Regions from separate parts of the Homo sapiens genome. Here region 1 is linked to region 2. Evidence: fine-mapped expression QTL. A gene starts in region 2. The other region holds a variant in brackets. All regions are shown on one strand. Distances are between the middles of the regions.

Region 1 (15,077 bases), 35 kb after region 2:
TTATTGGGCCAAAAGAGGAAGAGGTCGTGGTACTTTTCAACGTGGCAGAGGGCGCTTTAACTTCAAAAAATCAGGTAGCAGTCCTAAATGGACTCATGACAAATACCAAGGGGATGGGATTGTTGAAGATGAAGAAGAGACCATGGAAAATAATGAAGAAAAGAAGGACAGACGCAAGGAAGAAAAGGTATAAAATTTCAACTTGTGATTCTGACAGATTTTTTTTGATATAGGTTTGGTGGGTGAATTATTTCATTTTTAGGAACAATTATTAATATGGTTCCTTTTCACTCTCCGCATCTTTTGTTAATCTTTAATTTTTTCTCTCTCTTTTAGGAATAATAAATATGAAGTAAGATTACAACAGAGCAGAACTTGCACCCACCATTTTTTTTACCTGATTTTTGTTTTCAAATAAGAATGTAAGCATTTTACTTAAATTTTACTGTTTGCAAGTAGTCTATAGAAATTTTGTTTTAAGTCTTCAAATATCTTGAGAAATAGTAGACTGTATGTTGAAAATTGTACTGAAATAAAGTAGAAAATTGTTACGTACCATATTTGTAACTATCAACTTTTAAAACTTTTAACGTTTTTGTTACATGCATTGTAATTCTGCTTTGTCTATAAGATATGGTCAAGTACAGCTCTGTGAAAGTTCTGATTCTCTTCCTTCCCTGTTTGTCAATGTTTTATTCTGAAGTAAACGTTAGCTCTACATATAAATCCTGGAACAGAAATTGTTTATAGAGACTACACTAATTATTTTAACTGTATACATCTGTTTAATTTGAACACACTACATCGTAGGGTGACTGATTTTTGAAGTATACCACAGACAAAAAGTTGTTACTATGGTAAACTAAGCTAGTTTAACACTTGAGCAAATGCTTAAGAAGGAATTAAAAAAAAAAAGCTTTGCCAATAGCTAAAAAGTACAAGCTATTAAAAATCAGATTGAAAAGTTTTGAGAAAATGTTATTTTTACTGAAAGCAAGCAGTGGCCTATAAAGAACATTCTTAGGAGCCTTTTCTATTTGCGTTCAAAACTGTGTGTTCTCTTTCTATTCCTATTTGATAGTTTGAGTCATGGTCTTAGATATTAGCTATTTGTGAGAGGAAACTGGTTTGTAACAATACTGCAAATAGAAACCCCATTTCTACTGAACATCCTAGTTTTAAACAGAAGAAAAACTGTAATCCTGGGGTTGGTATGTAGGAGGTCTATCCTGCAGAATAAGTTGATACATTAGTACCTGATTTCATATCTTACATATTTATTTGAGCTGAACATTAGTTTGTAGTGTAACTATTAGTAAAAATAGAGAAACACAGCATACTGTTCATTAATAGTATTTTAAAAAAATTGTTTTTCAAATGTCACCAATAAAAGTTTTGGCAGGAAGCTTGTTGCGGCATTGATCTAACCTTTTTCCCCCCCATTTCAGTTGCAGTTTTTGTAGAATGGCTTTTTCTTTTTCCTCTTAAGAGTTCTATTCTTCAGGTAGATAATTTTTCAAATGTGAATTATCTTTTGTGTCTATATTGATAGCTCTTAAAGGAGTGAAAATCTAAAATAGTAAATTTCAATGTTAAGTGTCTGCTTTATGGGCATATATAAAAGTAGACACATTTCATTTGTTAATTTAGTTGTGTGTGTGTGTTAAAAGGAGCTAATGCTTATTCTGTTAATGTAAACTTTTGAAGATCTTAAGTGTATTGCTCTTTCATCTTAAACACTTTCGAGGATTTGCAGTGCGTCTAGCACCTAGATTACAGCCAGGAACATTGGTTAAGAACTGTTGGAAACAAAACTAAAAGCAAACTCAACATATGTGATGTTTATGGCCCTCAGATCCTTAGTATTGTGTGATTTTCCCCCGTTAACATGTCTTTCTAAAATTGTCTATTAAAGCAGAGGAAATACCTGCCAAAGGAAGTATGTATTGCATTAATCAGGGCATAACTAATATTCTCCTGTTCAGAATAATACTTATTTACGTGTGAAAGCAACATGGATGTGATTCCCAACACAGAATTTTCATGACCCTTTTATTGTATACAAATAAATACCATAACAGTTACTTGGTTAGACATCAAATCTGTGTGCATGACTATGTGCTTATCCACTTAAGACAATAGGTAAAAGGGGATCTGAGAAATTATGTAATAGGGAGTGGGAATAAAACTACTTAATTCCTGTGGGCAGGTTATATTTTAAGTTCAAATGCATTGCTTTAACCTTTGGTTACTTTTATTCTGTTAAACAGAATTGAAGAAAGAGTATTATACCAGAGTGTAGTAGGCTAGGGTGATTGTAAGAACTCTGTAATAGAATGTCATTGTGGATGTTACCTTTTTCAGATCCAAGCATATAAAAAGCCTGTATATTTTTTAAAAACACATCTTAACTCCACGCTTTACGATATTATAAAAGTTGAATGGTTCCTCTTGGTAAGGATATTTGCTTACAAGTGCTAGGAAATAACTCACTGATACCTGCGTTAACATACTTTGTTTTGCCTAGAGAGGGGCAATAAAAATGAACCAAAGGATATTTCCAGAAAGGATTAAGAAAGCTGTTTAAGAAGGCCATGACTCTTTAGGTGTGTATGTGTACCTTTCAGCATCCTAGGAATTTTTATACTAAAAGCAAAATGTTTTTTCCAGTTAGTCTTCTTCAAGGAATTACTATTGTTCCTTTTGTCACAGGTAAAATCAGTGTTGGGAATTATAATTTGAGAAAAATATTACCCAGTAACATTGAATGTAGATGGCTAAACGATTCTTACTCAGTGTGATGTATAATGATGCAACAGGGACCCTTGTAAATTGTCATACGCCAATAAAATGTCACAAGTAATAACTGCTGTTGTTTGTTTACCTGTGTCTATTTCACACATCTTATTTCTGTGGCCTATTTTAGAATATCAGCGCATCTGTTAGGAAGATTACTGGTGTGGTAAGGCTTGATAAATGCTTTATAAACTCCCTCAAACCTTTCTTTACTGTTTTTTTGTTTTGTCTTGTTTTTGTTTTTGTTTTTGTTTTTGTTTTTGTTTTTGTTTTTCCCTTGTCTCCCCTGGGAAAATGGGAAATTTTACAGTTGGTAAATCTAAGCCAAAATTATTTTGAAATAAAGGAATTCTGGATGTCCAGTTTAGTCCTCGTTTTCTTACGTTAATCTGGGACCTTATCACCCATAATATGGTGATTACTTCTCTTTCTAAAAACATAGTAGCTAGTAAATAAGTAAAAAGAATTGTCTTTTCATTCACTTTAAGTAAGATGTGGTATAATTCTTACCATGTGCCATCCTGTCAGTTTTAACAAAGCATTTTCACAGAAATTTGTGTACTAAGACAAACTGACACATTTTGACTCATACAAATGGCAAATTAGTCCTTAAAAATTCTGTGAGAGAAATAACTCTGTGTGTACATACATATGCATGTAAAGTGTTGTGTAAGATCATTGGTAGCTTAATTATACTGGATAATTGTAATGTTATATACAAATTTCTTATATAAAAGTATGCTGCATTATTAACATTTGTTTAACTTTTCTTATTTTTCTTTTTCTGGGTTTCAACTGGAATCCCATTGGTGGGGATGTACCTTAAGTTTCCTTGTGGAATAATAGACTTTCACATCCAGAAAGAGAAGTTCAGAGGCCTTTCTCAATTTACAGAGTTGAAGAGGAAAGGCAAATGGAGGAATAAACTTCATTGTCATTGGGATTAATTTGGCTAGACTCAATCTCTTG[A/C]GCCTTAAAATGAGAAAGTAATATCCATTACATGTTTAGAGTTCTCAAATAGTTGATACTATTATTAAATGTTTCAAATTTTATTGGGGTAGATACTAAAAATTAGTACACTGTCCTAATGAAGTTTAAATGAACAAGTTTTACATTTCTTAGGATTCAGGAATATATGGAATCTAGTTGTATTTAATTGACTTGAGAGCCACAGAGATTGTGTTGATTTATGAGCTGGACTCCTATTGTTTTAGAAACATGCAGTAATGATTAACTTGTGTCAATGATGGTAATGAGACCAAACTTGTACATTTAATTAAGGGTACCAGTTCTTTTTATGTTACTAGACTATACCTTGGCCTTTAAAAATGAATCTCACTGATTAAAGAGAACAGGCATTATTAGGATAGCATTCCACCACAACTAGAAACATTCAAATAATGTGTCTTAATTGTAATCTGTATATAGGAAAATTTTTCCTATGGATATTTTTGGTGTTTTACCACAGTGAACTGATTTGTAGCACTTATGAAGTGCAGAAGGTAATATTCTTGAAAATAGAAAAAGGTTGGGTGAGCAGGCTTTAATGCCTTTCCCCCAAGAATATACATCGAATTTTTCTTAATCTTTTGGGGTTGGCCAGCTTCCAGATTTCATTAATAATGAGCTCTGCCTTTAATAAAAGTACATGATCATAGCTACACTGTATGTTTAGGTGGTGTGAAATGATTTATAATCACAGCTTGAACTGTGTTTGCTTGGTACTGTCATAGTGATTACAAATTTCATGGAATGCGAAGAGCAACAATAAATAAAAAATACCACTCACCCTCCAGAATAGTGGATTATTTGCTACCTTGAGTCCTTCACTATGGAAAATAATTTTTCAGTCTCATTTGTACTAGAAGGGAAAACTAAACTTTCTGTTGAGTTCTCAGGATACTTGTAAGGTGGCCGTGAAAAAGAATGTTAAATGCACTTTGAATTATTTATTTATTTATTTATTTATTTATTTATTTATTTATTGAGATGGAGTCTTACCCAGACTAGAGTGCAGTGGCTCGAGCTCGGCTCACTGCAACCTCCGCCTCCCAGGTGCAAGCGATTCTCCTACCTCAGCTTACTGAGTAGCTGGTATTACAGGTGTGCACCACCACACCCAGCTAATTTTTGTATTTTTAGTAGAGACGGGGTTTCACTATGTTGGCCAGGCTAGTCTAATTCTCGGCCTCCCAAAGTGCTGGGATTATAGGCGTGAGCCACTGTGCCTGGCCAGAATTTTTAAATTTTAATTTACTTCTCACATATCCAGCCTGCAGGTTTAATTTATTTTTTATTTTTTACCTTACCAAAAGATTTCCCCACTCCAGAATTGTTTTTGGAAGAAGTTGAATATCATTACCAAATGTACTTTAAAAAAAGATAGGCCTGTGTGTGGTGGCTCACGCCTGTAATTCCAGCACTTTGGGAGTCTGAGACGGACAGATCACCCGAGGTCAGGAGTTCGAGACCAGCCTGGCCAACATGGCGAAACCCCGCCTCTACTAAAAATACAAAAATTAGCTGGGCTGATGGCACTTGCCTGTAATCCCAGCTACTCGGGAGGTTTAGGCACCACAATCACTTGAACCTGGGAGGTGGAGGCTGCAGTGAGCGGAGATGATGCCACTGCACTCCAGCCTGGGTGACAGAGCTAGGCTCTGTCTCAAAAAAAAAAAGATTACAGTAATTAACTGATTAATGTCAGCATACTATTCAAATGGCTTGAAGATACAGACTTGTAGAGTAATACCACCTCAGCATATAACTGAGGAATCAGATTTTTGAGTAATCGTGTTCAGATACTGCAGTAAGGGGATTTGTCAGCTGGGAGAAATGACTTAAAACTTAATTTGTACTTTTAATTGGAAAATGGGATGTAAAAGTCATGAAAGTCTGATAGAACTTGGAGTGAAAAATCGATGGCTGCTTATTTAAAAGGAAAAAATTAACAGTTCCATTCATGACTTACTGGAAAACTAAAACACATTGTTTTTGGAGTCCTTTCTAGATTTCAAAGTATACTTCTTTCCCTTGATATAACCTTAAGATAATCTTCCATATTTATATAAACATGAATATTTGTCCTTTACAAAAGATAAGGTTCAGTTAACAGAACTGAGTTATATAAAATGATTCTGGAATCTTAGCTTTTAGTATGTAAAGCTCTAGTTGAGGTGTGGGGAGGTCAGAGAATTGGGGGAAAAATAGCATATGGCTTCTCATGTTACAGATTTAGCTGTCTGGCCCACTCAGGACAATATTACATCTTGATTTTGTTCTGTATTCTCAACTTGGGCAACACTTTAGGAAATAAGTATTTGGCTAGTCTGTCACTAAAGGAAAAAGATTCAGAGCTTGAATTGGCCAATAGTAGCTACATGAAAAAGGGAAATAAGGTATGCAATTTTCAGTGTCAAATGAAACCACTTCTGGGAAGCATAACTATTCCTGCTACCAAATATTGAGATACTTGTCCTTAGGTTTTCATTTAGATGTTGCTGTTCCTAGAATAAGTCTTCCTAGAATAGGAACAGGTTTTCAAATGAGTGTTTCTTGCAACATTTTTTTCTGGTGGCTGAGGGCATGATGCCAGAGTGTAACAGTAATAATAAGAGGCCTTAAAACCATCTTATCTGAATATGGTAGTGCTCCAGGTATTAGGAATATCTAGCAGAGTAATTGGATTAGGATGTATATTCTTAAAGCAACTGTTCACATGGATATAACTTGCAGTTTTAAAGTTCTATGTTTCACTAGTTAAGTATGAGCTAGGCACTAGAGCAGCAACAAGATAAGGCTCTGTCCTTTTCTCATTTTTATTCTTGCACTATAATATGTGAAAATATTTTCTTGCATTATATAATATATTCATAGGCTCTAGTTTTTGAATGAGCTAGCTCCAAATAATGGGGTATTAATATGCAAATCAGGATTCTTGTAATAACTCTTTGATACTTTTGAGGATCAAGTTCTCTGTCTCTCATTCAGAGTTCATCTATTTAGACTTGCCTCTTTCCTAAACACTGGGAAGCCTAAAAATTTTAGACACATGGTATGTTGACTTTTTTTAACATAATTTTTTGGTATCCTGGACAAATGTGAGTCCTGCACTGTGTTACACTGAGGGAATAAGTTGAAAATGAGATGTATTGATACAACAAAGCAGGTAAGGAGCAGATCCTTTATGGAGAAATTTCAAAAATAGTTCTCAAACAACACTGCCCAGTAATAAATTTCATATATATAACAGCAACAGTCTGTTTTGAATGTACCGTTTGCAGAAGCCCTGTGATAGTCTCAGTCGCCATTAAGGAAAAGGACAGCAGAACTAAAGTTAAAATACCCTAGTGGGTTGAAAAGTCAAGGTAAGTCCCACCTGGCTAAGTAATGTTTAGGAGTATCACTGCATAACCGAACAACACAATATCATAGTGTTAATCCTAAGTCATAAAAGATTAGTTGGAAATGTGTGGTTATATTTAATAAAAATTTTGATGAAAAAGCTTTAAGGTGTGACAGCTGTCTAAAGGGTTAAATATCCATCTGAGAAAATCTAATACCTCAGAATCCCCTGATAATGCCAACCCAGTGCTAAATTGTTTAAAGCTCATCAAGGAATATGACTGCCTTACATAAGAGGGATTTTAGACAAAAATGGATCATCTCCTGAGCTAATAAGAGTTTCTGGCATAAGGTATTATGTATAGTAGGATAAGGTGTAGGAGAAAAGTGTAAGTGATCAAACTAAACCTCTCAGTGCTAATTATTGTCTTTTTTTTTTTTTTTCGCGACAGAGTCTAGCTCTGTCGCCAGGCTGGAGTGCAGTGGCACAATCTTGGCTCACTGCAACCTCCACCTCCCGGGTTCAAGTGATTCTCCTGCCTCAGCCTCCCAAATAACTGGGACTACACGCGCTGGCCACCACGGCAGGCTAATTTTTATATTTTTAGTAGAGACGGTTTCACCGTGTTGGCTAGGATGGTCTTGATCTCTTGACCTCATGATCCACCCGCCTCAGCCTTCCTAAGTGCTGGGATTACAGGCGTGAGCCACTGCGCCCGGCCTAATTATTCATTTTCAATGTCGAACTTTCCTCACATTATTTTAAATACCACTTTTATTCAAAATTTCCAAGCTTACCATTATACAAAGTTCTCTTGCCATTTTAAACCATTTGAATATTCCAGATATTCCAAAGGATAAAAGATAACAACCTATTGTTTAAAAGGAAGTAGAAAGGCAATACAGATTTCAGATGAAGCCCTGAAAGTAATTGGAACAGCCATAAAGAGTTTTCATGGTGCTGTCATATTTCAGGTTAGTGTGAAACATGTTCTAGCACTTCAAATCCAGCATTTCACAGCTACTGTCTCTGGCTAAGTTTACAAAGGGGGGGGGAGGGAAGCAAAAATTAGTAAATAATAGTAAATAACATTGGTATGTGGAAGGAACAAGGATGGAAGTACTTTGTGAATGACAGGTTTTCAAACATTTTTATCTAGATGCTGGTAACTCTGAAATTTACCTCTTAAACTTCTCTCCTGAACTCCATTTTTTCTCTCCAACTCTTCCCTGGATAGTTCTGCTGGAACTTAAACACTCCAAACTGTCATCATCTGTACCCCATCCTACTGCAAACTTATGTTCTTTATCCATTAAGCTAGTTGGACATCCCTATAAAGTGTTCTGTCTTCTCTCCACTGCCGCCCCGCCGTCCCCCCTCAACCCCCAATAATAGATGCTCATCACTATCCCTAGCTGCTGCATTGGTCTCTTAGCTTGGACTCTACCCATAAATTTCATCTTTATATTGCCATCTCTGGGATGTTTTTCAAGTGCAAAATTACAGTCATTTTAAAACCAAAATTTACGCATTGATGTCTTCCTGTTGTCTGAACCTCAGTCATGATGAGCTGTAGGAACTCCCTATGTACTGTTTTTGGCCACTTTGCCTTATGCTACTCCTTGTTCACTTACCTATCTTAAGTCTTACACCCTAGCAAAAAATTTCCAATTCCTCTTTTTGCTCAGGGGCCACTGAATGCAGCACATACCTTTAGGCTAGTAATTCATTCCATTTACATGTCTCCACCAGAATAAAATTTTAGCATTTAGTATTGTGCATGGCATACATACTGTAGTTATGTAATAAATGGTCCTTGAGTGTGTATAAATGAAAGAATGATAATTGCGTATTTATAAAGGCTTGATTTAATTTTATGTCTGCTGCTGCTGCTTGAAACAAATACAATCTGGGCTGTCTTAAAAATTGCTGGGATTACAGGCGTGAGCCACCGCTCCCAGCCAAGATAGGTTCTTGATTGCTGTGTTCAAATCCTTAAAAGGCTTTGCTAGAGAAGAGACATGTTCAAATCACATAGGATCAGGAGACTGGTATTTGATACTTGTCCGATCTCCTCATTTTAACATGTTACATATTTAAAGGACAGAAATCAGAGTCAGTAGGTAAAAAATCTTAGGGACATAGACTTACTAGCTCAATATAGTGAGCTAATTCAATATAATGAGCTAATACTTGACAACTAGATACTTTAAAAAGTGTTAACATGCAGCTTGTGAATAGCAAGTTTTCTACCTGGATCAAACTGGGGGAGGGGAACACAGGAAAACTCCAGAAAGCAAGCCACTATATTTTTGAACACTACTCAGAGACAACAGAAAAGCTAGCTTTGTGATGTCAGAAAAGCTTTCTTGGACCCTATCTCATTCTAAGAGTTCAGGAAAATCTAATTTCGTGTAAAAATGAGCAATGGAAAAAGATGTCCAATCACATAAAATGTTTTTGTCAAAATGGAATTATGAATGCTTTAGTAAACTGGAAGAAATATCTCTGAAGAATTTAGAAGAAAGTTGTCAGCAAAGCATTTATGGATGTAGTATTTGACCTGGGTCCTCCTTGCTACTTAAATCAGTTGGAATATTAACCTATGTTAATAGTGCAGCTGGAAGAGTAGTGGTTCCGTTCTCATTCTGGAGGGATGTTTTCATTCTGGCCCTGTCTGTTTGCTGTTTGATAAGAGAGTGGGAAAGGGAGGGGGTTATAAAGTCGTGATTTATTCACAAGGGCAAAGGGAAGGACAAGGAACTTGAGAAAATTACTCCATCTAGGGTTTCTGATCCATCATCATCCTTGTTCTGCGCTCACTCAGCCGTATCCAGCTCTACTGGGCATATCACTATTATTGCTATCAATTGTTTTGCTAGTTGCTTAGTCCCAAATCATTATCATCTTTTCTGTCATTCCACATTTAGGTATTTTATTCAACAAATAGACTGAATGCCTATTATATACCAGACACTCTTCTAAAGCACTGGGGAAAGATAGAGCATGGATCAAAACAACTTCCTGTTCTCCTGGAGTCTACAATTTTGTTTGGTGGTAGTGGAAGCGTAACTAAATATATATGATAAGTGCTATAGAGAAAAGCAAATTAGGGTTAGAATGGAACGAGATGCCCCGCTGGCCTGTAAGCTCCAGGAGGACGAGGACCTGCCCTCTCATTAAGGTATTTTCCGTGCTTAGAATGGTGTCTGCTACGTAGTAGATATCTATTATTGGTTGAATGAATAAGTGATGTTGACCATAGATAAATTAGTTCAAAACTTAGATTTTCAAATTATGTCAGTAGCAGGCACACATCTTAAATTGTTATATCACTCCAGTGCACGTCTTGCTGAAATTCAGAAGAGGAAGCTATTTCGTATGAAGCCAATAACCTCAAATCAGAAATGAAAACTGGGATATCACCTGTCATATCACTTGCCATCCTCGGCTAAGCCAGGAGAGTGTCCGGCCCAATATTCGGTAGCCTGGATACGTAGGTGTATTTAGTGAACGAAAGAATGAATCCTAGCCACTGCAAAGCTGCAAAACCCTCGGGGGTAGTGCTTGGCTTCTGCCAGTTCCACAAGTATTTTAATATTAGCTGAACAAATGAAATGACCAAAAAATAAATCGCGATTTTGTGTCAGATGAACTTGGGAAGGCGGATGCGCTTAGGGTCCGGCTGTAGCGAGTAAGACACTCCCTGCGAAGAGTTCTGTGGGGTACGAACTCCGGACTGCGAGTCCAGCTCACGAGTTTGTACCTAAAACCTTGCCCTGCGGGAGCGACGCTGTCCTAACGCGACCTGCCCTGCCCGTCAGCTCCTATTGGCTGACTCTCGGAAGACCCGCCTCTTGAGAAGGAAAAGCAGTCGCTTCCCGAATTGCCTGACATCATGCAATGACCAATCAGAAGCAGCGATCTTCAGTTTTGCCCAATGAGGCTGGTTACGGGTCCTGGCCCGCGGAGTTTGATTTCGTCCTGGGATGCGGAAGTAGCAGTCCTGTCATGCGGAAGTAGCAGTCCGGTCCTAGGGACTAGCAGGTGGGTTGGTTGGGCGCAGGAGGACGGGGGCGCGCTTCCCATAACATTACCCTGGCTGAGCGTGAGGCTCCAGGGCTGGGCACCGGGTTGACCTCTTATTCCTCGCTGAGGGCATCGTTACCGCCTGTGGCTGCAAGCCGAGGCGCGCGGGTGGAAACTGGGTCGAGGTCTGGGTAGACGTCTGAGCGATCTGCACAAGGAGTGGCGCAGTCTGGAATTTGATTGAGGATTCCTAACGCCCTCCGCTTGATGTTCTGGTGATTCCCGGGGGCTCGGCTTCGGAGGAAGGTGAGCAAGGCTACCACGCTGTGTTTGGAGAGCACCAGGAAGCTTGTGACCAAAGCGAGGGACGCGATCCGGCTCTGGTCACGGCCTGTTACTAGATGGGTGACCAAGTCACGTCCCGTATCTGGAATTCATGCTTCTCATTTTAAAAGAGTGAGGAGGGATGGGCATTCCACATGGCTGGGGAGGCCTCACAATCATTGCTGAAGGCAAATGAGTAGCAAAGTCACATTTTACATGGTGGCAGGCAAGAGGGCTTGTGCAGGGGAACTCCTGTTGATAAAACCATCACATCTCATGAGACTTATTCACTACCACGAGCATAGTATGGGGGAAGCTGCCCCCATGATTCAGTTATCTTCACCTGGCCCCACCCTTGACACGTGAGGATATGTGTGTGAGAAGAGCTACTGTTTATTTTTTTAAAAACTGAGTCGTCCCTTGCCTGCTTTCAAGGGTTGGCTAAACTCACCCATCTGCTAAGAGTCTCAGCCCAAAGCTTTCAGGAAAGAGCGAGCTTCGCTGTGGCATGTAACTTGAAGCCTTGCCTACTAAGTAGATGTCCAGTTTGTTGATTGGTCTCTATTAACTAGGCTCAAACATCCTACGAGGTTTTAATGTAATCTAACCAATTAATTGAAATTTCCTTTACAACCCTCTCTTTCCCCCAGACTTCCCCTTCCTTTCTTTTTCTCTGACTTAAAAGAATGCTGGCTAGGAGAAATTAGTTGACTGTGTCGTGTATCAAGAGGACTTTTCCAGGTTATGTAGTACAATTTGGCATTTATTTGTCAAGAGTAACATTTTCTAAAATTTTCCCCAAAGGCACCAAGAAACTGATAATGTTCCTTTGAATTGGCTTCTGTATTTGCTTCATCAATGTCTCTCATACTGAATATCTTAAGAGAGATGCTGGAATATTTTGGCGTTCCTGTAGAACAGGTAAATGTCGTTTTGGATTGGAATGGATCTGTTGTATTTGTTCTTGGGTTTCATTTTGAAAATGACTTATATGTAATCATTTGATTTAAGGCAAAGTTGTTGCTTCTTTTTAGTTGGAACAAAGGTGAGTTTGTAATAGTATAGCTTTGATGATTTGAGTTAGAAGAGGGATAAGATTATTGAGAACATATTTACCTGATAGGACAAATGCCAACAGAAGATACAAAGGAAGCAAAATATAGACATGAGCTTCACAGAATTACATTTATTGCACAGATACATTAAAACTTCTATTCAAGGTAATTTATAAACAAGTTCAATATTTAAAGCTCAATAAATCCAGAATAAATCTAATGGAAAGAGGATGATTTAGGCCTGAGAATTATAAGCTGTATTAGTCTGTTCTCATGCTGCTAATAAAGACATACCGGAGACTGGGTAATTTATAAAGGAAAGAGGTTTAATTGACTCACAGTTCCACATGGCTGGGGAGGCCTCACAATCATTGCTGAAGGCAAATGAGTAGCAAAGTCACATTTTACATGGTGGCAGGCAAGAGAGCTTGTGCAGGGGAACTCCTGTTTATAAAACCATCACATCTCATGAGACTTATTCACTACCACGAGCATAGTATGGGAGAAGCTGCCCCCATGATTCAGTTATCTTCACCTGGCCCCACCCTTGACACGTGAGGATAATTACAATTCAAGGTGAGATTTGGGTGGGGACACAGCCAAACCATATCATAAGCAAATCAAATTTTATCTACTTGTTGAAAATCTGCTGTATCTAAGACAATATGCTTGTTTCTGCAGGTAATACAGAGGAGTAATACATGGTTGTATTCATAATGCTTAAAATATGAGGAATAAGAAACAATAAAGATAACTGTAATATGAGATTGTAAGGAAGACGGGTGGGGTGAATTAGAAGAAAGTAGTCAAGGATAATTTAAGATTTTTTTAAAGCAAAAGTAAGTTGAAGAATCATAGTACCATTATTATAAATGGGCATCTTAGTATGAGAAACTAGTTTGAATATGGAGATGAGGTGAGTCAGAGGTGATGTTAGAACATATAAGTAGAAATATCCTTCAGACAATTGGATATATATATGGTTTTAGTATGTAGGAAAGAAAAAGATTCAGTTTTGGGAGTTATCTGCTTTGTTTTGATATTTAAAGCCATGGACTTCGATAATGGCAAATGTCATTAGATGTGATTGAAACATTCTAAATATCAGTAATCGAGAGACTGAAGATAACAGCTGAACATTTGTTTATCACTATTAGGTTATTGGTGACCTTAAGAATTTCTGTAAGTGGAGAATGGGACTGTGTTGGAGTAGTTTGAAGAATATCAGGAAGGGAGGTGGGATCAGCAACCTTCTTTTGAAAAGTTTGCTTGTGAAAAGAAATTGAGAGAGGCCATCAGCCTGAAGGGGCCGCAGGATGGAATTTTTCTTTTTCTTTTAAAGTTAGAAGTAACTTCAGCATATTTGTCATCACTCTGGAAGAAACAGACAGGAAGAAATTTAAGATCCACATGAGAGAGGATTGAGCACCGCCTTTGAGAAGGTAGTTGGGCAAGGGATCTAATTAAATAAGTCTTGGAAAGGAGAGAGACTGTCCTGCCTTAAAGAACAGAATGAAAGTGAGAGAGAGTGAAAAGAGATTTTTTTTTTTTTTAAGATGGAGTCTTGCTCTGTTGCCCAGGCTGGAGTGCAGTGGTGCAATCTTGGCTCACTGCAACCTCTGCTCCGAGGTTCAAGTGATTCTCCTGCCCCAGCCTCCCGCGTAGCTGGGATTACAGGAGCCTGCCACCAATGCCCAACTGATTTTTATATTTTTAGTAGAGATGGGGTTTTACCACGTTGGCCAGGCTGGTCTTGAATTCCTAACCTCAAGTGATCCACCTGCCTTGGCCTTCCGAAGTGCTGGGATTACAGGCGTGAGCCCCTGCGCCTGGCCTGAAAAGAGATTTTGAATGGAGCTAAGTAAGAGAAGTGAAGTTGAGGTATGTCAAGTTGAAGTTCTCGGTTTTCTCAGTAAGAGCAGAGACAAGGTCACTTGCAGGTAATGAAGTGGTGGGATTTGAGAAGGGATTTCAGAGATTGGAGACTGCTCTGGGCAATGTGGTATAGAATGTAACATGTTATGAAGGGATTTCAGAATACCTGTGAGAACCCAGCTGAAGTCATCATGGAATTGTAGTTTTTCTAAATATTGTCGTTTTGTGATTTTTTTTTCCTAGCTAAGAGTAATTACAGTAGTGTATTCATTAGCAGTGTGGGAGCACATAATATCAAAAGAATGAACCATTTTTGAGTGGCATTGAACATATTACTGAAATAATTAACCAGAAAATCCATGCTTGGTAGGAAAATTAGTAAAGTCAAAATGTGGGTACTAGACCAGGAATAGAGGGAAGATGAAATAATAAGAATGGTGAAGATGGCCAGATGTGGTGGGTCGCCCCTGTAATCCCAACACTGTGGGAGGCTGAGGCAGGCATATCACTTGAGCTCAGGTTTTCAAGACCAGCTTGGGCAACATGATGAAACCTCGTCTCTATAAAAAATATAAAAATTAACCAGGCATGGTTGTGTGCACCTGTGGTCCCAGCTACTCCAGAGGCTGAGGTAGGAGGATTGCTTGAGCCTG
Region 2 (15,279 bases):
GTTGCAGTGAGCTGAGATCGTGCCACTGCACTCCAGCCTGGCGATAGTGGGAGACTCTGTCTCAAAAAAACCAAAAAAACAAAAAAACAGAAAAAAAAAATCACGGATCATTAGAGAAAAGCAAATAAAAACCACAATGAGATATCATCTCATACCAGTCAGAATGGCTACTCTTAAAAAGTCAAAAAAATACCAGATGCTGGCGAGGTTGTGAAGAAAAAGAAATTCGATATACTGTTGGTGAGAGTGTAAATTAGTTCAGCCATTGTGGAAGGCAGTGTGGTGATTCCTCAAAGATCTAAAAACAGAAATATTTGACCCAGGCAGGGCACAGTGGTTCACACCTGTAATCCCAGCACTCTGGGAGGCCGAGGTGGGTGGATCATGAGGTCAGGAGTTCAAGACCAATATGGTGAAACCCCATCTCTACTAAAAATACAAAAATTAGCCAGGCGTGGTGGTGCGCACCTATAGTCCCAGCTACTCAGGAGGCTGAGGCAGGAGAATCATTTGAACCTGGGAGGCAGAGATTGCAGTGAGCCGAGATCGCGCCACTGCACTCCAGCCTGGGCAACAGAGCGAGACTCCATCTCGAATATAAAAAAGAAAAAAAAAAAAAGAAATATTTGACCCAGCAATGCCATTACTGGGTATATACCCAAATAAATACAAATTGTTCTATTATAAAGAGAACATGCACACATATGTTCATTGCAGCACTAGTCACAGTAGCAAAGACATGGAATCAACCTAAATGTCCATCAGTGATGAACTGGATAAAGAAAATGTGGTACATATACACCACAGAATACTATGCAGCCATAAAAAAATAATGAGATCATGTCTTTTACAGGAACAGGGATGGAGCTGGAGGCCATTATCCCTAGCAAACTAACACAGCAACAGTAAACCAAATACATGTTCTCACTTATAAGTGGGAGCTAAATGATGAGAACACATACATGGACACGCTGAGGGGAAGAACACATGCTAGGGCCTTTAGGAAGGTGAGGGTGGGAGGAGGAAGAGGATGAGTAAAAACAACTAATGGGTACTAGGCTTAATACCTTGGTGATGAAATAACCTTTACAACAACCCCCCAGGATGCAAGTTTACCTGCGTAACAAATCTGCACTTGTACTCCTGAACTTAAAAGTTAAATAAATAAATAGATAAATAAGGTCTCCTTCTTTGATTTTCTATCACGTCCTGATTGATAGTACAATTTGTGTCTGCTTACGTGTGTTCTGTCTCCCTCACAGAGAGGCAGTCTACCTGGGAGCAGTGTCAGCGTTAGGCTTCATCACTGCTCCATCCTGAGCACCTGGCTCAGTACCTACAAATGGCACATGCTTCAGGCATATTTGCTGACTAAATAAACAAATGAATAAATGACGGGTGAAATCCCACTCATTTTTAAAATGCTAGTTCTTTCCCTCTTTCACCATAGGCACTTGCTCCCATGTAGATCTGATGTGAGAGTTACACCCTCTCTCTGCTGGATTTTGAGTTACAACAGAGAAGCAGCAACGATGTCTCATACTGCTTTGTAGTCTGTAACAGTGGTCTCCAACCTTTTTGGAACCAGGGACCGGTTTTGTGGAAGACAATTTTTTCATAGACTGAGGGCGGTAGGATGGTTTTAGGATGATTTAAGTGCATTACATTTATTGTGCATTTTATTTCTACTATTATTATGTTGTAATATATAATGAAATAATTATACAACTCACCATAATGTAGAATCAATGGGAGCCCTGAGCTTGTTTTCCTGCAACTAGATGATCACATGTTGGCATGATGGGAGACAGTGACAGATCATCAGACCTTAGATTCTCACAAGCAGCCTGCAACCTAGATCCCTTGCACTCGCAGTTCACAATAGGGTTCACGCTCCTATGAGTCTAAGGCCACCACTGATGTGACAGGAGGAAGAGCTCAGATGGTAATGCAAGTGATGGGGAGTGGCTGTAAATATACATGAAGCTTCGCTGGACTGATGTTCACCTCCTTCTGTGTGGACTGGTCTGGGAGTTGGAGACCCTTGGTCTGGTCTGTAATATCTAGAATATGACAGGTCTTCAATAAATCAGTGGTTCTAAAACTTTAGTGTGTATCCTTACCCCCACAGATTCTGCCTCAATAAATGTGTAATGAGACTCAGTTCTCTTAAACAACCTAGGTTATTCTCATGAGTTGGCTTCTGTTTTACACTTTAAGAAAACCGGCATTAGGGCTTGTCAATATCAACGGTGACTCCCTCTCCAGGCCAGGCTTAATTCTTAGTTCTTTTAAAATAAGCAATGAGGCTGAAATTTCAGCCTATCTCACTCCTACCTGCAATACTCTATGCTCTGTATTTCACTACTTTTAAATATCATCATTGGTTGCAGCCCTTTGCTTAGGTGATTTTAGCCTTCTGTGAGATAAATTGTCTGGGTAGAACTGAGCTTTCAGACTTTTCAGGGGGCAAACAGAGATATTTGTTGGCAACTGGATAACTGCTTTAAAAGAAGGAGTTGTTCTGTAACTCTTATAACCTCTCCTAAGGAAGAAATGATTTCTGGGTATGAATCCCATCATGATTCTGTTGCCCCATTTTAGGGGGGGTTCCCTCTTTGTTCTTCAATAGTTACATTAAACAGCAAGCTGGCATAATTTCTGGGCAAAGATTTCTTATGAAAACTTTGAAAGAATTTAATGTTCTATTTGTTTTTTCCATCTTTCTGAGAAAGATGCGCATTAATCTTGATAGAACTTAGAAACAATAGTTAACAGTCACATTTTGATATTTTTCTGTTTGTTTGTTTGAGACAGAGTCTCGCTCTGTTGCCCAGGCAGGAGTGCAGTGGCACAATCTTGGCTTACTGTGGCCTCCGCCTCCCAGGCTCAAGCAATCCTCCTAACTCAGCCTCCTGAGTAGCTGGGATTACAAGTGGGAACCACCACACTAGGTTAATATTTAAAATTTTCGGCTGGGCGCGGTGGCTCACGCTTGTAATCCCAGCACTTTGGGAGGCCGAGGCAGGTGGATCACGAGGTCAGGAGTTCAAGACCAGCCTGGCCAAGATGGTAAAACCCTGTCTCTACTAAAAATACAAAAATTAGCTGGGCATGGTGGTGCACGCCTGTAACCCCAGCTACTTGGGAGGCTGAGGCAGAGAACTGCTTGAACCTGGGAGGCGGAGATTGTAGTGAGCCGAGATCCCGCCACTGCACTCCAGCCTGGGCAACAGAGCAAGGCTCCGTCTCAAAAAGAAAAAAACCCAAAACCAAAAAACAACAACAAAAAAATCCAAATATTTAAATTTTTCGAACAGACAAGGTCTCACATATTGCCTAGGTTGGTCTCAAATTCTTGGCTCAAGTGATCCTCCTACCTCAGCCTCCCAAAGTGCTGGGATTATAGGTGTGAGCCACCATACCTGGCTCATTTTGATATTTCAATTTTTTTTCAAAATGGTGAGATGAATATTAAGGAACAACACTGTAAATACATAATTCTTAAATAATTTTGGTAATTTTAAACCAAAATAATTAAAATTGAAAAAATAAAATTAAAATATTTTAAATAAAATAAATAACTCTACATTCTTAGTATGTAAAAGGGGATAGAAAAATAAGGAAAATATCCTAGTCAATTTGTTCACCAGTAGGAATGAAATAGTCTAGACAAGGGGAACCATTTATTTCACTGGTACAGATCTAAAAAAATGCCAGATCATTTGGAAAACTGACCTCATAAATAGGACCTGCTTCTACTCAAAACTGTGACATGGAGTTCAGGGTTCTTAGCAAACAAAAGAAACCAATTCTGATTAACTCATCAGGAAAAGAAATTTACTGGAAGGATACCAGCTAGCTCAAAGAATCAATGAACATTTTATCACTTAAAATTAAAAAAAGAAATTAGCACAAAGCCTGTAGAGGGATATGCACAAATGGAGGCCATGCAGCAGGAACTACAGCCAAAGTCCGGCCCCATCAGCACTCTAGTTAGGGAATCTCTGTTGGTCACGTTTCCTCTGCTGCCTGCTTCCCACTACTACTGTTGGGTTCCCAATGCCAGTATTTTCAGGGAGTGGGAAGAGTGAGACTCCAAATACCACTTCAGCTTCAATTTCCCCAAATACGGAAATAGTTCAGATGTTCCATCTAAAAAGATAAACAAAACAAACCAAGCAAAACCAGTCAGGTCTTGGAGCTTGCCTTCCTGCTAGACTTCCAACCCCATCCTCATTCCTATCTTCTTATCTTTGTCCTTTTCACATATCCATTCTTCTCCATTTCTCTTTTTCCTTTTCTTGTCTCCATTTCTTTTTTCATTTTCTTTCTTTCTTTCTTTCTTTTTGAAATACAGTCTTGATCCGTCGCCTAGGCTGGAGTGCAGTGGTGTGATCTCGGCTTACTGCAACCGCCACCTGCCGGGTCCAAGCGATTCTCCTGCCTCAGCCTCCTAAGTAGCTGGGACTACAAGTGCCCACCACCAAGCCCGGCTAATTTTTGTATTTTTAGAAGAGACGGAGTTTCACCATATTGGCCAGGCAGGTCTCGAACTCCAGACCTCAAGTGATCCGCCCGTGTCGGCTTCCCAAAGTGCTGGGACTACAGGCGTGAGCCACAGCGTCTGGCCCATTTCTCTTTTTCAATTATCTTAAATTAAAATCAAACCAAAACAGAAGCAATATCTTTCAAGAAAGAGTTTTATAATCGTATTAACAATAACTTCTCCATGACCATAAATTAAAATTACCTTGCCGGGCGCGGTGGCTCACGCCTGTAATCCCAACACTTTGGGAGGCTGAGGCGGGCGCATCACTTGAGGCCGGGACTTTGGGACGAGCCTGGCCAACATGGTGAAACACTGTCTCTATTGAAAATACAAACATTAGCTAGGCTTGGTGGCGGGAGCCTGTAACCCCAGCTACCTGGGAGGCTGAGGCAGGAGACTTGCTTGAACCTGGGGGTGCGGAGGTTACAGTGAGCCGAGATCGCGCCACTGCACTCCAGCCTGGGCGACAGAGCGAGACTCTGTTTTTTTTTTTTTTTTAAAATTAAAATCAGCTTACTAATTTATCTCAGCATTCTCTTTGTACCTTTTTAGCAGTTTGGTCATTTGTTTACAACTTGTATTTCTTCTTGAGATAATGTTCTATTTTTCTGCAATGCTCATTTGTTAAATGGGCTCTTTTTTCCTCTGCTCTTTTCGGCGTTTGTATTTTAATAGGAAAAAAATTTATTACAAAGAATGAATCTGTAATGGTGGAATTTCAGGTTTTGAAAATAAGAATGTGCATAAAACATCTAAATTCAAGAACCTCCTACTTTGTAGATTGGGAAAGCATCACGTATCAAATGGATCTATTTCAAGGGAAGTCTGTATAACTTCCACTTACTAAAGGCTTTGTTCCAAAGGATCTCCTTTGTTACTACCTCATGTTATGTAAATAAAATCATAATCAGTTATATTGCCTCAAATAGATACTTCATTTTCAACACATGTGCAATAGAATTGCAGAGGGAGGTCGAAGATAATATCCTAGCCTGCAATTTGGGGTATTTTGAATAAATGAATAACAGCATGTATTGGGAGCGCCCCGACTCCCAATACATGCAGAATAGCAGACGTGTATTGAGCCCTTAGTTGTTTTTTTTTTAAATATAGTTCATTCACTCAACAAATATTTCTGAGAACCTGCGAATGCTTGGGACATCAGGGCACAACAAAAAGGCCAAGGATTTCTGTGTCCACATCCTGAGGTGGTAATGGGGTGAGGGACAGACTGTACAATAAAAAACCTACGATTCACTCCATGAAAATGTTGTCGTTTTTCTAGTTCAGCTGGTAAACTGGACTGTGAAGAAAGAATGCTCTAAGCACAGTGTTAAATTCACAACCAGGGCCCAATCCTAGTTTCGATTCACTCACTGACACCCTGGTTGCTAATTACAAGTCTGAAATCCATCAAGGTAGTTAACATCTCTAAACATCAAAGCAATAGCGGTTTTAGGCCCTAAGAAAGTGCAGCCCGGAGAAGTATTAATGCAAAATGTGCTACGGCTGTTATTTAAATTCTATTCAAATCGAATGTGGCTTGCCTATTTATAATCTGACTTATAATTCTGGACAACCAAGCTACGTTGGGCTGTGTTCCTCGGCTGCCACAAATCATCGTCACAGGCTGAAAGCTCAACTGCTTCGTGCTCTTTATTTTTTCATGCCTATGCCAACGTTGCCGATGTGGTAAAGCTGTCATCACGCCGCCAGAAGGGCGGCCTTCTTTGGCACGAGCAGCCTAAGAGGTTTCCGGCTGCTGCGGCTTGAGCTCCGATTTGATCAGACGCCACGAAAGGGATTTAGATCGTGGCCATTTTTCAACTAAGTGCGTCTGCCGAATTTAATAGCAAACCAAAAGCCACATTTTCTAATCTCCAGTTAGGCGTCCAAGAGGAAAAGTGGCGCTTGCTGGCTGAGGGAGCAGCGTGTCTGCAATTACAGCCACGTCTTGCCTCCTGGTCTTTTCCTCAGTGTGGGATTGTCTTTTTGTTTTTTGCCTGGTCTGAGCCGGCCCCACAGAAAGAACAGACCAGACGAGCTTACTGAGGTAAAACGCAGGGGCGGCGGTGAGGTCTAGGGGGTCTACTCAGAACGAGGCAGAGACACCAGCGAAAAGCGCCGTATGGCGAAGCTAACTCAGGCCTGACAAAACACCCACCCTACTCTACCGCCTCTCCGGCCAAGGCTGACGCTACGGGCCAGAGGGCGGAGCCGTCACATCTTCCCGCGAGACCAGCCACGCGACTTCCCAGAAGGCCGCAGGCAACATCTTAATAGCAGCCAGGAAGCCGGACCGGAGCGGAAGGGTGGGCGGGGCTTGCCCGCATATTTAGCGGCACCCGAGGCCACGCCCCAGATCGGAAGTGACGGAGACGTGCTAGCGCGTCGAAGGTAGCTCTATGGTTTTCCTCGCGTTCTTGAGTCGGGAAATGGCCGCTGTGTGGTTGCAACGGAGATAAATTCCCGGAACCGCGATTCGGCGTGTCAGGTAGGCCTCGCAATGTATTCAAGTTACTCCAGGGGCAGTGAAGACCGAGGACAGGCCATATTTTTGACTCTTTTGTGGGTGGTGTCGGGTTGGCGGCGAAAGGAGAACCAAGGAGACGTTGCGCCGTTATTTATGCGTTTTTTCGTTAGCTTCTCTCAGGTTTTCGAGGCACTACGGGCCGAAAAGGCCGGGCGGGGGCGCTGAGCAGTGCTAACGGCGGGCGCGCGCGTGTTTGCGAACCTGCCTGGAGACCCACAGCCCGCGCGGCCTCCCGTGCGCGTGCGCATATCTTCCTCTTCCACCCTTCCCCCATTTCTTCAGCCCGTACCTCTGCGCGCGCCCGACTGAACGCTCCGCGCACGCGCGCTCGTTCATTTTTCTCTCCCCCGCCTATGGCGCCGACGGCCGCTGGAGGTGCAACTTGTGTCCGCCTCTCATTGGCTGGGACTGCCACCTTTCTTCGTGGCCTGTGGGGTTTTGAGAAAATAACTGTGACCCGCAGCAAAGTGCGTTGAGTAGGTCTACCCCTTTTCGCGTGGTCTTTAAAACTGCCCTCCGGCTTCAGACCACCCGTCAGTTAATGCCTCGTTTTTGTGATGCTACTAGGTTTTAGTGCTCTGTTCTGCCTCTCGCTGCTGACCCTGGTTCTCTGGAGTTAATTTCGGTACCCGCGGCAACCTGCTGTTTTGAAGCGAGCGCGCGCTGTTGACTGGTGCTGGTTGCCTAGTTACGGTTCCCTAGCGAGAGGATTGGGTCTTAGCTGGTGGTTCTGAGCGTGGCCCTGCCCCATCCGGCTGAAAGTGCGGTTCTTCATGAGTACTAGCGAAGCCGAGTCTTTTCAAGTGATTCAGCCCATTTAGTCGTGTCAGAAATGTTGCAGCCACGATTGGTGGACAGCTGGTGTGAGAAATGGGTGGGAGTGGCGAATTGGACTTTGCCTTCATTTTAAATTCATGAGTTGGCTTGATTCGCTTTTAAGATTTATTTCTTCAGAATCAAGCTGAAGTACCAGCAGCTACTTTGCTACCTCAGACTTTTTTAAAAAGCATTTTAGAACTGGAAACAAATTAAGACTGAAGTTGAAAGCAAGTGTGGCTAACACTGACGAAAAAGATGAGCTACTTCAGACTTGTACCTCACTGCAACAGCCTCTTTTAAATTTTTTGGTGTTACAAAGCAAAACAAAATTTCTTGTTCCTCTTGTGAATTCTCATTTCAGTTCGACTTTAGTTGGAATGGTTAGGATACTGTTCAGGCAGTAAATAACCTTTACGTAGGAAAAACTGCTACAAGGCTTTTGTATTTTTGTTTGATCATGACCAATTCAGGATAGGTAATTTGATGGGAGGGAAAAAGTGGCCCCTCGGCGGGAGTTTGAGGCTGCTGTGAGCTGTGCTCGTCCCACTGCACTCCAGCGGGGGCAACAGAGCGAGACCTTGTCACTTAAAAAAGGTAGCTCATGGTAAACAACCTTGGAGCACCTTCTCTTAGTGATTTCATGTTTCAACCAGTACATTGTGGTGAATACTGAAATATCTTGTTTAATTCAGATAATTAAAATGGTGGCAAAGGAAGCTGTTTAGCCAGAGCCCTTCTTGACTTTGAGGAACAGTGGTAGTATAAGACTTGAAGACAGACGTGTAAAAAGTACTACTCACTGGTAGGCTCAGGTCTGGTTGATTGACTGATTCTTGAGACGGAATGTCGCTCTGTCGCCTAGGCAGGAGTGCAGTGGCCCAGTCTCGGCTCACTGCAGCCTCCGTCTCCGGGTCCAAGCGATTCTCCTGCCTCAGCCTCCCGAGTAGCTGGGACTACAGGCGCCCGCCACCACACCGGGCTAATTTTTGTATTTTTAGTAGAGACGGAGTTTCACAATATTGGTCTCGAACTCCTGACCTCAGGTGATCCACTCGCCTGGCCCACCCAAAGTGCTGGGATTACAGGGATGAGCCCCTGCGCCTGGCCTCGGTTGAATTTATTAAACAACTTTTGTGGGCAGCAAGCTGTACGAGGTTAACTATGTGATGAGAAGACTTAGAAATGGAGAAAAGTTTTATCAGTTCTACATAGGACTTAGTTTGGGAGTTTCTGGAAACTACGTTGGAAATCAGTAGTTGCACACTAGCTGAATTCAGCTGTGTAATTTACAGTGATTTGTTATTTACCAAATAAGTAGAAGAGGGAATTAAGAAGCTAAAATCTCTGGGTACTTGTTTGATATGAATTTGTTAATTGTTTATACTCAGGTAATAAGTGTTACCTCAGTCATAGCATTTAATATTTTATCTGACTGTCCCTAAGGCTGAAAACCAACGAATATACTAACACGAAGATAATACTAGATTATATTTGTGTAATATTTTAGAGTTTTCAAACACTTTAATTTTATTTATTTATTTTTTTGAGACAGAGACTCGCTCTGTAGCCCGGGCTGGAGTGCAGTGGCGCCATCTCGGCTCACTGCAACCTCCGCTTCCCTGGTTCAAGCGATTCTCGTATCTCAGCCTCCCAAGTAGCTGGGACTACAGGCGCCGGCCCGCCACCATGTCCTGCTAATTTTTTTTTTTTTTCTTGAGACACAGTCTTGCTCTGTCGCCAAGGCTGGTGTGCAGTGGCGTGATCTTGGCTGACTGCAACCTCTGCCTCCCAGGTTGAAGTGATTCTTGTGCTTCAGCCTCCCCAGTAGCTGGGATTACATGGGATTACAGGTGCACACCACAAAGGCCGGCTAGTTTTTCTGTTTTTGAGATGGAGTCTTGCTCTGTCACCCAGGCTGGAGTGCAGTGGCATGATCATGGCTCACTGCAACCTCCACCTCATGGGTTCAAGCGATTCTCCTGCCTCAGCCTCCAGAGTAACTGGGATTACAGGCGCCTGCCACCACGCCCGTCTAATTTTTATATTTTTAGTAGAGACGGGGTTTTGGCATGTTGGCCAGGCTGGTCTCGAACTCCTGACCTCGGGTGATCCGCCCGCCTCGCCCTCCCAAAGTGTTGGGATTACAGGTGTAAGCCACCGCACCCAGCCCATTTTATTAAGCATGTCTAGAAAGACTTCTAAATGATGCTGATTAATGCTGTATCAAAAATATTAGGTAACCTTACATGCAAGAATCATTTTAAGTAAACGTGGTTAGCTTGCAGAAAGGCTGCCTAAACAAGGGTTACCAATAATGATGGCTAATGCTAGATTGTATACCACGGGCCAAACATTAAACTAAGCTGTTTACATGCCTTACTTAGTTCATTTAACCCTGTACTTGTAAGGAAGTACCATTAGTAGTCTTTAAAACAACAACAACAAAAAAACACCTGCAGAATTTGAAGCTGACAGATGAAGGTAACTTGTTCAGTGTTGGGCAGCTAGTTAATGGCTGAGCCAGGAATTGAATCTAGACTACTGGAATAATAGTCATGGGCTATATTTTTAGGATTTGAAAAGATGGAAATAGCATTACTTTGTTTACAACAATCTGGGGACCAAACTCCTTGAGCCTGCTAAAATGAAGACTGGGATCAAGTATGCTTGAAATAGTAATCTTAAAGAATTCATTTTGGGTGGCTTTGTCTTGGGTATTTTGTTGAACCCAGTTACCTTGATCATTTTTTTTCTTTTTTTGAGACAGCCTCTCTCTTGCCCAGCCTGGAGTGCAGTGGTGCAATCTTGGCTCACTGCAACCTCCGCCTCCTGGGTTCAAGTGATTCTCCTGCCTCAGCCTCTGGAGTACCTTGGGACTATGGGCGTGCACCACCACGCCTGGCTGATTTTTGTATTTTTAGTAGAGACGGGGTTTCACCATGTTGGCCAGGCTGGTCTCAAACTCCTAACCTCAGGATCCGCTCACCTCGGCCTCCCAAAGTGCTGGGATTACAGGCGTGAGCCACCATTCCTGGCCTGATAAATTGTTTTCTAGCTGGTTTCTGATCACTTATGTTCTAGCTGGTCATTATGTATTATTTCATGAAAGATAGGCTCTGTTTAGATATTTAAGAACCTTATTTTTAAAAATAAAACCTGCTTTATTTTATCCTGTGTTCCTCATTGGTTGGTCTGTCAATTGGCTAAAGATACATATGGCAATTTATTCCTTATTTCTGTATACAAGTGGGAATCTATTAACAAATGATCTTGGTTGTAATAAAGGGAAGATTAATTTGGCATTTTCAGTTTTGTATTTGGGTTTTGGAAACATCAAGCACCTTTTAGGGTATTGAAGAGAGAGCACCGGATTTGGAGTCAGGAGATTTCAGTCAAATTTTGGATTAACCATTTACACTCCGACTGTGGGCACGAAAAACGGCAAACACATCTTTTGTTTTCTCCCCCAAACTTGTCCTCCCAGATGCTTGAATCTAAAACCTAGAATTTAAGGGCACTAGTGATTTTTCATTTTTCCTCACTCTCTGTACTTCACACCCCTAACAATCCATTAACAAGTCATTTTGACAAACCACATCTTGGATTTGCCTCTTTTTTTCATTGCTGTTTATTTTTTATATAGCAGCCATCTTAAAATGTAAATCAGATGAGTGACTCACCCAAGCAAAAACCCTGCAAGGGTTTCTCAACCGAGTAAAATCCTGATCCCTTTTGATGATCTACTAGATGCTATTTCATCTGGTCCATTCCTCCTCCTGCTGCCCTATTTCATACCCTCAACTCCTTGATCACGTTGTCTCAACCTTCTTATTGGTCTTTCTGTCCTGAATTTGCTAAGTTTGTGTCCTCTGCCTAGTATGGTCTTCCCTCTGTGAATCTTTGCAGTGTTCCCTGTCTTTAGGCCCAAATGTTACCTCCTTAAAGAGGGCCCAAGGATCCACCTAAGTAAGTAGTCCCCCTGCCCACCTCCTCTGCATGTTAACTTGTACTTTTCCCCCCCCTCCAATGTGGCACTTGCCACTATTTGATTTTTTCCTTGTTTTCTGTCTTCCCCTCTCTGAAAGCTTCAAGAGAGTAGGGAGCTTAAGTCTTAACTTAAAATGCTGTATTCCCAACGTTAGAATAGTAGTGCCTGGCATGTAAGGCACTTATCTCAAGTTATCTGGAAAGTTTAGGGTTCTCTGTATTTGAAAGATGGGATTAATATGTAGCTCATGAGATTATCAGGATCAAATATGACATTATTTTATTTACTTTAAGTCACCTAGCACAGTTCTTGGCACATGGTTGGTATTTAGATGTTTAGTTTACTATGATTTGTTGCTGATAACTGTTCTCGATTTGGTTTTTGGAAGGCAGGGACCACTTACATAGATACATTTCCTATAGTAATTAGCATTGTGCTTTGTATATAGACTTTCATTTTTTAAAAATTAGTTGAACTAATCAGTCTTTGATACTGACTTATTTATTGTGTGTTACATTTTGTGTATTATTTGAGTTATTGGTGTGGATACTTGAATATATTTATAGATTGTGAACAGGAATGTATATCCACTGGTCTAACAGCCTGTATTCCCTGTTCTGTCAGTTTTTTATATCTAGTGTTTATTTTCTTTGAACTTCAAAATACCATGACGGAGTAAAGAGATCTGGCAGTTGGGTCTTCTCTGGATATATATATATATATATATATATATATACACACACACACACATATATATGTATATATATATATAAATTAGCCTTTTGGAATTGTTTAGGGAAGTGTTAGCTAAAATGAGCCTTGTACCACTTCTAGGAGTGAATCAGTAGTAATGACTTTCCAGGTCAGAATAGTTTTATGACAGTACTCCAGTTTAGAAGATTGCCATTTTTTTCTCTGGCCACTTGGGGTTTTGATATTTTAAAAACTAAACTTATATGTCCTTTAGAAATCCTTTGTTTTTGTACCCAATCTTGCTTGGCTTTTTGACTTTGCTACTTTTTTAGTGTTTCCCTTAATAGGTTCCGATTCCTCCTTCCTAGGCTGAACCTCAAATCTCTCCCCAGTTGGAGGGCCATGGATATTTTAGGAGACGCTATTCTTGATTCACCAGTTTAATGTTACCATTTCTTCTTTGTATTTCCAGTCTCGTTTTATTTTTAAAATTGGATCTTGGTAAGAGTTACAGATTTCCATTTAAACTTGTTCATGAATTCTTTGAGTGCTGATGTATATTAATCTTGTATTCCTTAGTTTCTGTTCGCCTGGTGCTTTTGACTATCCTTTGCACATACTTGATGTGAATATACATAAAGCTAAACTTTTCAGTATTGGTAACTTGAATATTTTGTGCAAAGTTTATTTACAGATTAATGATAAATTATTTTAGGAAGAATATTGACTTTCAGTAGATAAAAGTTTCATTGCTGACTGTTCTTTTATTTGAATGTAGACGTATCAAGATGCTTTTAGGCACAGAATTTAAAGTTACTATGATGGCTGTTAACGTGGATTTAAAAATCAGTTTCACATGAAACTAAATTGTGTGAAAGGAAGTACCAAAAGAGAATAAGTAGCAGAGCATTAAACTCATATTTTAGATGTTATAAAGTAGAGCATTATGAAAATTAACTACAGATTACCTTTTTTTTTTTTTTTTTTTTTTTTTTGAGATGGGGTCGTGCTGTGTTGCCAAGGCTAGAGTGTGTTGCCAAGGCTAGTCACAGGTGTGATCACAGTGCATTGCAGTGTCAAACTCCTGGGCTCAAGTGATCCTTCTGCATCAGCCTCCCAAGTAGCTGGGACTACAGGCTTGTGCTACCTTGCCCCGCTACCAAGATGGCATTATGTTAGCTACGTTGGAATTTTCTGATGGAACGACATATCATATGTTTTTTAAGGCTCAAATTACTAAAATTAGAATTCAAGTAGTTAAAAAGATGCTGTCAGTTTCATGATACGCTACTGCATTGTGGTTTACAAAAAAGTTGAATTTTAAGCTTTTACGGTTAAAAGTTTCCTATTTCCTGAATTAGTTTTTCCTTCCCTGAAATTGTAAGTGCGTTTATTAGAGTTTATGGCAGTGCCCATTATATGCATTGTAAATAATGGTTATTTAATTTAACATAAATCACAATAATGGTTTTTTTGTCTTTGCTAGGAATTCGAATTTAGAGTTTAATTTCTCAGAGCATTCTCTCCAGGAAGAATTTTTACAGTATCTCAAAGACTTCACTTGACTTCTTGATCCTGCATAAAACCAAGGTAAAAGAGCATTCATTTTTCTAGTTTTCACTTTTGACTTTTTTGAGGAAATGTCACTACTGAATTGATGATTCAGATGGAGTGATTAAAAATGATGTGGTCCGAAGCTTTGTTTTTTGTTTATTTTGGTGGCTTGTATGAAGTAAGTCAGATGTTAAGTTAGTTTTAGGAAAAAGGTTCTTTTTCTGTCTTCTTCCAGGTTGTGCTCCTGCTTTTTCTATTTCTATAAACACATCTACTAAAAGACTCAGGACATACAAGATAGAAAGACTGCTACTTAACCCATTTCCCTAATGTAAACAAGAGGAGATTCATAACTTGTTTCTCTCTACTGTAGTGTTTAGGTAATTCAAATTGATTGCTAATGTGTTAGATGTATTAAGTGAATTAAGTTCATCAACTCATTAAGTCCACTACAAGTCTGTGAAGTAGGTACTGTTATTTTCTTCGTTTTACAGTTGAGGAACAGGCTCAGAGAGCTTAAGGAATTTGAATTCATGTAGTTTAAATGCAGAGACCATGTTCTTAGCTTTTTCCCTGTTTTTGCAGTAGAGCAGAAGATATCAATCCATTTCTTTTGGACTGCTAACTATTTGATAGGCATGCTTTCTTTCCGTTAGTTTTTGAAGTTTCAGGTGTAGCTTAAAGCAAAACGCAAACCTTTAAAAATGAACTTGCTGCTTTAAAAAATGTCCAGGTTCTGGGGAATGCATTCATTTTATAGTTATTTATTAAATACCTGTTGTGCTCGTGTGCCACAAGCCCAGCTACATCCTGGTGACTGAAAAAGCCTACAGAATTCCTGAATCCTTTAACAGAAATTACCATCCAAAAAGCCTCAAGAGCAAAGAACAGAGATTCTGGAGATACAGCACAACACAGCATCTGTAGCTCTTAGTAAAATAGTGTTTTATTTACTGATTAGTACAATGAAAAAGGATGTTGTCTTATTGCTGGACTGGATCTCCAAAATCATTTGCAGCTCTGGTTTCTTTTTATAGTGTGTCTGATTATCTCAGAGTGGGATAAAAATAAATATCTTGAAGTAAATTCGATCAGAATGAATGTAAATTACGTATTTATATTCTTTTAAAAACTTTGGGA

What was found. PIP is the estimated chance that this variant, and not a neighbour inherited with it, causes the effect.
Region 1: its variant is fine-mapped to the expression of BCLAF1 in whole blood (TOPMed, PIP 0.97).

What each region holds. Positions count from the first base shown.
Region 1 is chr6:136,246,375-136,261,451 of GRCh38, reverse strand. BCLAF1 (BCL2 associated transcription factor 1) reads left to right here. Exons shown (of 13, transcript NM_014739.3): 12 at 1-187; 13 at 337-4,825. The coding sequence ends at 342. MTFR2 (mitochondrial fission regulator 2) reads left to right here and starts at 11,141. Exons shown (of 8, transcript NM_001099286.3): 1 at 11,141-11,476; 2 at 12,299-12,415. The coding sequence starts at 12,353. RefSeq lists enhancers at 10,672-10,821, 11,472-11,691. The variant A/C (reference allele first, on the strand shown) is at 3,766.
Region 2 is chr6:136,281,480-136,296,758 of GRCh38, reverse strand. BCLAF1 (BCL2 associated transcription factor 1) reads left to right here and starts at 6,913. Exons shown (of 13, transcript NM_014739.3): 1 at 6,913-7,046; 2 at 14,072-14,175. It overlaps LOC124901408 (a long non-coding RNA gene), which reads right to left and starts at 6,745. Exons shown (of 4, transcript XR_007059784.1): 1 at 6,602-6,745; 2 at 1,734-2,063. RefSeq lists enhancers at 6,218-6,337, 6,658-6,877, 6,242-7,441, 7,388-7,507, 6,926-7,522 and 2 more.